Homo sapiens: one gene and its partner. The protein of the gene in region 2 purifies or fractionates together with the protein of the main gene of each other region. This does not show direct contact. Each region holds a gene or a part of one and is shown on either strand. Other genes may lie near its edges.

Region 1 (7,335 bases), on a different chromosome or scaffold from region 2:
TTAAAATCTTGTACTTTCAGGTTTATTTAAATCGGTTCATAGCAAAAAGCCTAGATACTTTTGTTTATACCTATAAAAAATATGCTGTTTTTCCTCTATAACTGAATAAGGTCCATGTATATTAAGATTTGAAGATGCAAAATGACATCAAGAGCCCAGGCCTCACCTTGTTTTCATCTCTTACACAGCCAAATCCAAACTAAGTCTAAAGATGACTTGTGGCTCAGAACTACTCTACCAAGTTAATGACCAAATTATCCCCAGCTTAAAAACTTAGATTGAGTCCACAGCCAGATGTTTAGTCTAGGGCAGAAATCTAGTTTAGCATATTCCAAATTCCCAGAAATATATCAAGCTCTGGAGCCCCTGCAAAACAAAGGATCTGTCAGCCTCTCCTCAGTATGAATTTTGGCCCTCAAGTCAGGCTCTTTTTAAAGAAGGTAGGCTTCAAGTAGAGGAAAATCATTCCGACGCATTCGTTCTATGCTCACCAATATAGGTATTCTGAAAGACATCTAGAGTTGAGGAAGTAAATGAAACGCCTATGAATTTCTATGCCTTTTTCTAATACATTTCACATTGATTTTGATGAAAATAAAAATGACATCAAAACAATTATCATAAACAACATAATCATTTTTTTAAAGAGACTGTAGAGTTTCACAAAATACAGTAAAACTATTACTGTAACAGAAATAAGGGGACCTCCACAAAATTTTAAATCATTTTCTTCATACTCTGAATGAAAGGTTTCTTAAGTAGAGATTAGCTATATAAAACGTTACTCCACATTAACTATGGTCTTCTACCATCTCCTATGTGACAAATTTTATGATAGATACATAAAATCCAGATATTGGCAATATCCAATTTTCCTTACCTTAAAAGTTATCAGTTCCACAATCTGTACTTGACCATGAAAGAGTATACTGGTACTTTCTTTACGGAGAAAACCTTAAAGACGGTTTCCTAAGGTGGACCCAATGGGAAATTACACAGGTTTACATGAGACAAGGTAGTAAAAGAGTAGATTAATTCGGCCGGGCACAGTGGCTCACGCCTGTAATCCCAGCACTTTGGGAGGCCGAGGCGGATGGATCACCTGAGGTCAGGAGTTGGAGACCAGCCTGGCCAACATGGTGAAACCCTGCCTCTACTAAAAATACAAAAATTAGCCAAGCATAGTGGCACGTGCCTGTAATCCCAGCTACTCGGCAGGCTGAGGCAGGAGATCGCTTGAACCCAGGAGGCAGAGGCTGCAGTGAGCCAAGATAGTGCCATTGCACTGTAGCCTGGGTGACAAGATCAAGATTCCGTCTTGCAAAAAAAAAAAAAAAAAAAAAAAAAAAGATTAATTCCTAGTAATTTCTAGTTATAAAGTATTTGGTCCTGGAATTTGCAACCTGGAATTTCTGTCCTCAACTTGACCTCTCCTCCAACAAATTAGAGAACACTCAAGGTTATATATAATTCCTTCATCAGGATTCTTTAGAAAGCAGAATATACCTAGAATGAAAACCAGAAATTTACTGGCTAAACCAAGATACTGTCCATTTTGTCCAAATACCTTTGATATCTCAAACCCACTTTTCTCCACAATACGAAAAATCCAGTTCCTAAATCCTGCCAACCCACTGTGAAAACTACTTCCAGGTTTTGAACAGGATATTCCTTTTGGTTAAGAATTAAATTACACCCAAGTGTTCAAAAAAATAATCTAGTCACATGGCTCCAAATGGGCATTTCTTAAACAACTCATAAACGGCCTATTTCACATGGAACCTGTTACAGGACATTTCCAGAACAGACATAATTAGGGCTATTCACACCAACAAAGTAACGTCACTATTACTGGCTATTAATCAGTATAAATTAATAGCCTTATGGCTGTTAATCAGTACGTGTTAGAAGCCTGGTGGTACTGAACCATACAATATGAAGATATTTACAAAAGTTACTATGTTACCTGTAATATAAAAACACAGATTTAGTAATCAGTTACAATCTCTTTCTTCACAAAATCATACACTGCACATGTGTTATTTAGCTTGTGTTTTACAGTTTCCCTTTGTTTCTTCTCTGTTCACCCTAATGAAAAATATCTGCTACTTTAAACAAAGAGTTGAAAGAGATAAGACAAGTAATTTAGAGAATCCATAAGTTTTGAGACATATAAGCCTTTCGTGTTCTCACCTTGAGAGACGAAGAGCTTTTCTACAAAGGCTGAACAAGAAAAGAAACGCACACAACAGTCTTAACCTGTGCATTTTCCTATAAAGTGAAAAGCTGAAGCAATTTCATGCCATTTAATTAAGGCTTAAAAGATAAATGCCTTTTAAATTTTTTAATTAATCCAGCTACGTACCTTAGTTCTTCACCACCCTTTGAAACACCATGCAAGGGTCCCAAGACTATCTTCCTCTTTTGGTCCTGGAGTGGTGGACGAGGCAGTACGCGAGGAATAGAAAACGAGTAAGCAAAGTAAGCGGTCCTAAGATTCTTCAAAATGTACAGCAGCCCAGATGCCGCCCATAAATTTGGAATAACCAAGAGATACTGCTGGAACCTCCCACGCAAAACAAAACGCTACCGTTTCGGAAAAGTTTCCCGTGCCCCGCCGCCGACCTGGGCCTACACTGCTGCGTTCCTCTCCGAAACCCCCTAAACTCACAGGTGTCCTCCGGGAAGGGCTAAGCAGGGCCTACCCGCACTGCCCGTTCAGAAGTTCTAAGGCCCGAGCTGGGCGTACTTGGTCGTAGCTTTCTCCCGAACCAAAGGAGGTAGTGGTGGCCCGTGGGACAGCTAGGCCCAGCTCCGGCTCCGGCTGAGATCTAACCCCCCTCACGGCTGCCAGGGGAGGAGCAACACAAGAAAAGGTAGGGGCTGCAAGGATATAGAAGGTTGGGGGCGGTGGCAAAAAGCGGAAGAGCAAAAAGTCGCCGAAAAAGCGGCGTAGAAAACCCTGTCAAAGACACCCGGAAGACCGACGTGACCCCGGATGAGAATAGGCAGCGGGGAGCGAAAGGTCACACTTCCGGTGGCCGCCTCCCTCCCACCCCCCAACCCCCCCCACCCCCCAACCCCCCCCACCCCCCCCACCCCGCCTATGAGCGCTTTGCTTGAATGCGCAGGCGCAAGACAGCCGGATTTGAAAGGAGTTTCTTAACTGCTGCCAGCACAAGTTGGGAAAGGGTTAGGACTGCACTAAGAGGGGTGGAGCAGGCAGTCGCCGGAGGGCCACTTCTGGGCCCCTTGCCTGAACTCACGTGCAGCCGTTCTAGCTGTAACAGACGTTTTCTGTGGGTCCTTCGTGTGTTGGCCGAGTGACTTGTCCCCAGAGAAGCCTTTCTTTAACCAGTGTTCCCCTAATCTTCTCCCCCGGAGCAACATTAAACTTTATCTGTTCTTTTGCCCCTCCAGTAACCTGAGAGCTTCTTTGGAAGGAAAATGCTTTCTTTGGCCGGACGCGGTGGCTCACCCCTGTAATCCTAGCACTTTGGGAGGCTGAGGCGGGCGGATCACGAGGTCAGGAGTTCGAGACCAGCCTGGCCAACATGGTGAAACCCCATCTTTACTAAAAATACAAAAATTAGCCGAGCTTGGTGGCGTGCGCCTGTAACCCCGCTACTCAAGAGGCTGAGGCTGGCGAATCGCTTGAACCCGGGAGGCGGAGGTTGCAGTGAGCCGAGATCGTGCCACAGCACTCCAGCCTGGGCGACAGAGCAAGACTTTGTCTCAAAAAAAAAAAAAAAAAAAAATGCTTTCTTTCTCTCTAAAGCCTGGACTTAGCGCCTTGCCCATAGTAATAGCTGGTATTCACTAATTCAACAAATATTTATTGATATCGCCTCTTGAGTGAGCTTTAATAATTTGTAGAAATGTCTAAATTGTTTAATAATGCAAATCTGTTAGCTGTATTCCTTTATTGTCCACTTAATGTCTATAAAATCTGACCCCTCAGGTTCTGAAATTGGTAATTTGTGTGTCATCTTTTTTTCTGATCGATCTGGTGAGGGGCTTCTCGGTTTACGGATCTCAAATCTCAAAGCCCGTTTTTGCTTTCTTGGATTTTCTCTACTGGTTTTCTGTTTTCTATTTTATTGATTTCTGCTCTTATGTTTATTGTTTCCTTTACTCTGCTATTTTTTAATTTTTAAATTTCTTGTTTTGTTTCTCTAGTTTCTTAACTCAGAAACTGATGACCATTAATTTTAGATGTCTCTTGTTTGTACAGGCATTTGGTGTGATAAGTGTCCCTCTATACTGTTTTAGCTACATTCCACATATTTTGATATATTGTATTTTCATTTTCCTTCATTTCAAAATACTTTGTAATTTCCCTATTGCTTTCTTTTTTTGACCATGGGTTTTTTGTAAGTGTTGGTCTGCAAATGTGGAGGAGTTTTCCAGGTAGCTGCCTGTTACTGATTTCTGATTTAATCCCATTGTGATCAGAGAAGGTACTTCGTACACTATTAATAATTTTAAACTTATTGACACTTGTTCTGTGGCCCAGAGTATATAGTCTGTCTTGGTAAATACTCACTGTGCATTTGAAATGAATGTGTTTTTTGCAGTTGTTGCATGGAGTGTTCTATAAATGTCAATCATGTCAAGTTGGTTGATATTAGTGTTCAAATCTATATCCTTTCTGATTTACTGTCTACTTATTCTACTAATTATTGAGAGTATTGAAATTTCTGACTATTACTGGTTTTTTTCAATTGTAGTTCTATCAATTTCTGCTTCATGTACTTTGCAGCTCAGCTATTAGTTGCATAAACATAGTTATTCTCTTATTTGTATGAATTTATCCTTTATGAAAGTTTCATTATTATGAAATTATCCACTTTACAAATGACCCTCCTCTTTGCTGATAATGTTCTTTGCTCTGAAGTATATTTTGTCTGATAGTATTACAGCTACTTAGGCTTTCTTTTGTAGGGTGTTAACATGGTATATATAAGGAAAACATAATTCCAATTCTAGATAAAGTCCTCCAAAAATTGAAGAGGAGGGAATACTTCCCAGCTCATTCTGTGGGGCCAGCATTACACTAATACCCAAACTCTAGATATTAAACAAGCAAACTATGGACCAATATCTCTCATAAACATAATATGCACAATTCTAGTCACTTTTATTTCACAGTATATAAAAAAGATAATACATTATATCCAAACAGGTGCTTATCCTAGGAATGCAAGGTTGAATTAGCATTGTATTGACCATAAAAGAGTATACTGGTACTTGCTTTACGGAGAAAACTTTAAAGACTGTTTCCTAAGGTGGACCCAATGGGAAATTACACAGGTTTACATGAGACAAGGCAGTAAAAAGTAGATTATATAAAAAAGATATATAAATATATAAATACATAAAAATATATAAAAAAGATAATACATTATAACCAAACAGGGGCTTATCCTAGGAATGCAAGGTTGAATTAGCATTGGTAAATCAAGCAATGTAATTTACCATATTAACAAACTAAAAAAGAAAAACCATTTGATAATCTCAATACATGCAGCAAATGCATTGGACAAAATCCAGTATCCATTCCTAAGATTACAAGGAAACTTCCTCAACTTGATAGAGAGTGTCTATAAAAAGCATCACACTTAATGGTGAAGAACAGTGCTTTCAACTTAAGATCAGGAACAAGGCAAGGATTTCTGCTCTGACAACTTATGTTCAATATTGTACTGGGGATTCTAGCCTGTGCAATAAGGCAAGGAAAAAAAAAAGGCATTCAAATTAGCAAAGAAGGAAGTAAAACTGGTTTTATTTGTTTTATTTATTGAAAACTCTGGCACAAAATCTACAAAAAACTATCAGATCAAATAAATGACCAAGACTACAGGTCGTAAAATCAATACACAAATGTCAATGGCATTTGTAGTACACCAGCAATAAACAATCTGAAATTGAAATTTAAAATACCATCTACAACAGCATCAAAAATTTGAGGCGGGCATGGTGGCATGCACCTGTAGTCCCAGCTACTTGAGAGGATGAGGCAGAGAATCACTTGAGCCCAGGAGTATGATGGCATTATGATAGGTCACTGCAGCCCCAGAAAGAGAATGGAAAGACAAGCCAAAAACTGAAGCAGCTATTTGCAAATCACGTATCTGATAAGAATGTGTGTGTGTGGTTGTTTTTTTTTTTTTTTTTTTTTTTGAGATAGGGTCTTGCTGTGTCTCAAAAGAGCTGGAGTGTAGTGGCATGCTCACGACTCACTGCTACCTCGACTTCCCAGGCTCAAGTGATCCTCCCACCTCAACTTCCTTAGTGCTGGGACTACAGGTGTGCACCACCATGCCTGATTAATTATTGTATTTGTTATAGAGGATGGAGTTTCCCCATGTTGCCCAGGCTGGTCTCGAACTCCTTGACTCAAGCAATCCACCTGCCTCAGACTCTCTAAGTGCCGGAATTACAAGTGTGAGCCATCATGCCAGGCCCTGGTAAATAATTTATATCCAGGCTGGGCAAGATGGCTCACGCCTGTAATCTCAGCACTTTGGGAGGCCGAGGTGGGTGGATCACAAGGTCAGTAGTTCGAGACCAGCCTGGCCAATATGGTGAAACCCCGACTCTACTAAAAATACAAAAATTAGCCTGGCATGGTGGCAGGCGCCTGTAGTCCCAGCTACTTGGGAGGCTGAAGCAGGAGAATCACTTGAACCCGGGAGGCAGAGGTTGCAGTGAGCCGAGATCACGCCATTGCACTCCAGCCTGGGTGACAGGGCAAGACTCTGTCCACAAAAAAAAAAAAAAAAAAAAAAAAAAAAAAATTTATATCCAGAGTGTCTATTTTTTGAACTCTCATACCTCAATAGTAACCCAAAAAAATGGGCAAAAGGTTTGAAGAGACATTTCATCAAAGAAGCCATATATGGATGACAAATAAAGGCATGAAAAGATATGCAACATCATTAGTCATTAGAAGAAATACAGATTAAGAGAAAAATATAAATTAAGACCTCAACAACATACCCTACCTATTTGATGGTAAATTCCAAAAGACTAGTCATACCAAGAATTTGTCAGAACATAGAGCAACTGAAACTCATACACTACTAATGGGAATATGAAATGGTACAAGCACTTTGGAAAAAACTTAGGAAGTTTCTTAAAAGGGTAAGCATACATTTATTTGCATATGATTCAGACATTCCATCCCTAGGTATTTACTCAAAAGAAATGAAAGCACATGTCCACAGAAGGACTTGTACACAAATGTTCATAGCAACTGTATTTGTAATTACCTGTAATCCCAACCCTTTGGGAGGCCAAGGCGGGAGGATTGCTTGAGGCCAGGAGTTGGAG
Region 2 (3,630 bases):
AATGCAACAGGATTGGCTGCATAAAAAACAGAAAGTATTTATTTTACAAAGTCGGACTGAGATACTATCTGAGTTCAAATTAAATACCGGTTCTACAGGTAGATTCTCCAGGGATGGGAAGTGCCCAGACATAATGTTTGGTGTCTCTCACCACCTTCCCCACTCATAATCTCATCTTTTTGTCTTAAATAAACAGATTTATGCAGCTGGTACCACAATACTATTTCAGTAATCTGCCTCCTAGTGAAAGTAAGGACATTCTACAGCAAGTAGTGGATCACCTATCCCCTGTGTCAACAATGAATAAGGAACAGCAAATGTGTGAGACGTGCCCTGAAACTGAACAGAGATGCACTCTCCAGTGACTCCCCAGCAAACACAAGGTGCAGCAGGGTCCCAAAGGTAGCTGGATGGCTGAACTGCTGGATATGGGAGATACATGACGCGAAGACGGATTTCACATCCACAGGACGGTCTTGAAGAAAATAACACTGTGTATATTATTTTAAAATAAAAAATAGAAGTTTTTATTGAGTTCTTTAAATTACTACTCCATGCTTTTCTTCTTCTTGGAAAAGTTTTTAAATCAACCACTCATAATTTGACCAAAATTTTAAAAAACTGGTATTTTGTAAATGTGTCAGAGACACATGGGACAGAACCCTACTTTTTGTAGAGGAACTTAATCTGAATAAAGTCTGAGTTTTTCAGTAAATCTCCACTGAGTTTTCTGGTAATTTTACAAAAACAAGCCCATCACTGTCCATTGGAAATGGGTTAGACAGATAGATATTCTTTCAGTTTATCCATGATTTCGTTCATCTTGTCGCCTGGAATTAACATCACAGTTCGCAAGGGCGTCATTGGTACGTCATCAAAAGACCATTTGCCTCCCAGACAAGTGTCGCTCTCCTCCTGCACTGAGTAGTTGAACTTGAGAATTGCCTTCTAAACCAAATAAGTAACCATGAATTAAAAATCGGGACAACCCAAAGACAAAACCCATTTGATCTACGGCAAAGAATATTACGTTTGGCATATGCTTAAATAAGAATGAGAGCTAAAAAAAAGCAAAACTCAGAATTGAAAAAGTTCAAATGGGACATTCAGGCAGAAGTTATAAAACACAAACCAAGTAGATTTTAAACCCACATGAGGAACAGGGATAGAGGTGTGCAATTTCTAAGAGGTGAACAAGCAGCTAAGTGGTATTTTCATTTAATTGTCAAAATAATCTTGTGAAACATAATGAAATTAAGACTTGTAAAATTTGATATTTAACAAGAACTTGTCTTCAAACACTCTTTTCTCACTTTCTCAGCTGCTTCCTTAGCATCAGGCTTTTGTGTGAAGACAGAGTAAATCTGCATACCCCGCCATCTTAAAACACCCATACACACTCCCCCCAAATGGTCAACCTGAGGTGTTGAAGCATATGGTTTTGTTTTTTTTGTTTGTTTGTTTTTTTTTTTTGAGACAGAGTCTCACTCTGTCACCCAGGCTGGAGTGCAGTGGCGTGATCTCGGCTCACCGCAAGCTCTGCCTCCCGGGTTCACACCATTCTCCTGCCTCAGCCTCCCAAGTAGCTGGGACTACCGGTGCCCACCATTGTGCCTGGCTAATTTTTTGTATTTTTAGTAAAGACAGCGTTTCATCGTGTTAGCCAGGATGGTCTGATCTCCTGACCTCGTGATCCGCCCGCCTTGGCCTCCCAAAGTGCTGGGATTACAGGCATGAGCCACCGCACCCGGCCTATGTTTTTTAAAAATTATGTTTACTATTTACTTCCTGGAAAAGAAGGGCACAGCTAAATTTGTAGCGCTTTAGTCTTCTGCAGAAGTCTTCAAAGTGATGTGATATCATCCAATTCAGGAAAATATGTTCCCCTCAGAGATACACTTCAAGATTTTTTTTTTTCTGAGACAGAGTCTCGCTCTGTCGCCCAGGCTGGAGTGCAGTGGCGCAATCTCGGCTCACTGCAAGCTCCGCCTCCCGGGTTTATGCCATTCTCCTGCCTCAGCCTCCCGAGTAGCTGGGACTACAGGCACGTGCCACCACGCCCGGCTAATTTTTTGTATTTTTTAGTAGAGACGGGGTTTCACCATGTTAGCCAGGATGGTCTCGATCTCCTGACCTCGTGATCCACCCGCCTTGACCTCCCAAAGTGCTGGGATTACAGGCGTGAGCCACCGTGCCTGGCTCAAGATGTTTTTGTGTTTTTTGTTTGTTTGTTTGTTTTTGAGACGGAGTTTCTTCCTTGTTGCTCAGGCTGGAGTGCAGTGGCGCGATCTCGGCTCACTGCAGCCTCTGCCTCCCAGGTTCAAGCAATTTTCCTGCCTTAGCCTTCCGAGTAGCTGGGATTACAGGCATCTGCCACCATGCCCGGCTAATTTTTTTTTTTTTGTATTTTTAGTAGAGATGGGGTTTCTCCCTGTTGGCCAGGCTGGTCTTGAATTTCTGGCCTCAGGTGATCTGCCCGCCTCAGCTTCCCAAGGTGCTGGGATTACAGGTGTGCACCACCGCACCTGGCCCACTTCAAGATTTTTCAGAGGAAGAGAGGGTAAGAATATTCTCTGGTATATGGCTGTCCATCACAGTACAAGCTACCTTTATAGGAAAAAAATGCTGGAGATATCCCACCAGCAGGATGACATCCACGACTAAGGACACAGAGCAGCAGGGGTGCCCCAGCTTCCACACTGACCAGCTGTGTGATCGCAGGTAATTTCCCTCATTTCCCTATGCCTTAAAGTCCACATCTGTAAACCCCAGGCTAATGTCTACCTCTCCGCATGGTTTTAGAATGAAAGATTTCACAGGAAGCATATTATAAATGCCTAATCATTCTTAACAGGTTAATCACTTTTCTCCTCCTCCTCCTCATGCTCATAACCACAGTGCAGGCAAGGAGGCTGGTGCCTAGCCTCCTGAGTACCTACTATGCACCTGGCACTATGTTAGCTGCTAGGTCCTGTGGGGAAACAGAAAAACAGAGTAGCCACACTTGAAAGACTTGGACCTAAAGTGGGAGAACAATAAATCTTGATAAATCATTTTCAAGAAAATCCTTATTTACATCTAAACAAATAAGCAGGATAGTCTTACCTCATAGAAAAATTCTTCCTCTGCATTTGCAAACATTAACGCAGCTTTCTTTTTGTTGCTAGGTTTCTTTTTGGAATTGTTTTTTCCTGCTTCCACAAATGTCTTACTAATCAGAAGGTAAAAGTAGCACTTCCCACATGGCTTATTGGTTCTGTGTGCCCCCGCCAGTTCTTTCCTGCAAGGCACACACACAACATTTGTTTACCTGCTGGGTCAAGTGAAATCCATCAACAAACCAGAGCACAGAAAACCCGGTGAGGCATCTTCAGTGGGTTCTGCTGTGACGCAGGCATTCAATCTGAACACTTAGTCTACAGGAATGATTTTTATTTACATAATCAGTTGCATTTTAGATTATGTATTACTTTTTATAATACTATGATATATCTCTCAGATTATGCTGATTTGTGGATATATAGCAACTAACAGATCAGATGAGTCTCAAATTCACTCAATGTATCACTGCTCTGCCTGTGCATAAGTTAAAAATATATACGAATCTGAATTTTTGAATTTTTTAAAGCA

What was found. The genes of interacting proteins can lie anywhere in the genome.
Region 1: the proteins of BCCIP (region 2) and TENT2 purify together in Homo sapiens (affinity purification with mass spectrometry; 3 studies listed by BioGRID and IntAct, with this or other methods). This does not show direct contact.

What each region holds. Positions count from the first base shown.
Region 1 is NC_000005.10:79,608,106-79,615,440, reverse strand, and holds the start of TENT2 (poly(A) RNA polymerase GLD2), read right to left. Parts: upstream 3,001-7,335; 5' UTR 2,366-3,000; intron 2,224-2,365; exon of another isoform or gene 2,194-2,223; intron 1,507-2,193; exon of another isoform or gene 881-1,506; intron 1-880. UniProt on the Homo sapiens protein: Cytoplasmic poly(A) RNA polymerase that adds successive AMP monomers to the 3'-end of specific RNAs, forming a poly(A) tail. In contrast to the canonical nuclear poly(A) RNA polymerase, it only adds poly(A) to selected cytoplasmic mRNAs.
Region 2 is NC_000010.11:125,833,422-125,837,051, reverse strand, and holds the end of BCCIP (BRCA2 and CDKN1A-interacting protein), read right to left. Parts: intron 3,281-3,630; coding exon 3,106-3,280; intron 949-3,105; coding exon 778-948; 3' UTR 501-777; downstream 1-500. Other genes in the region: putative pre-mRNA-splicing factor ATP-dependent RNA helicase DHX32, read left to right, coding at 197-365. UniProt on the Homo sapiens protein: During interphase, required for microtubule organizing and anchoring activities. During mitosis, required for the organization and stabilization of the spindle pole.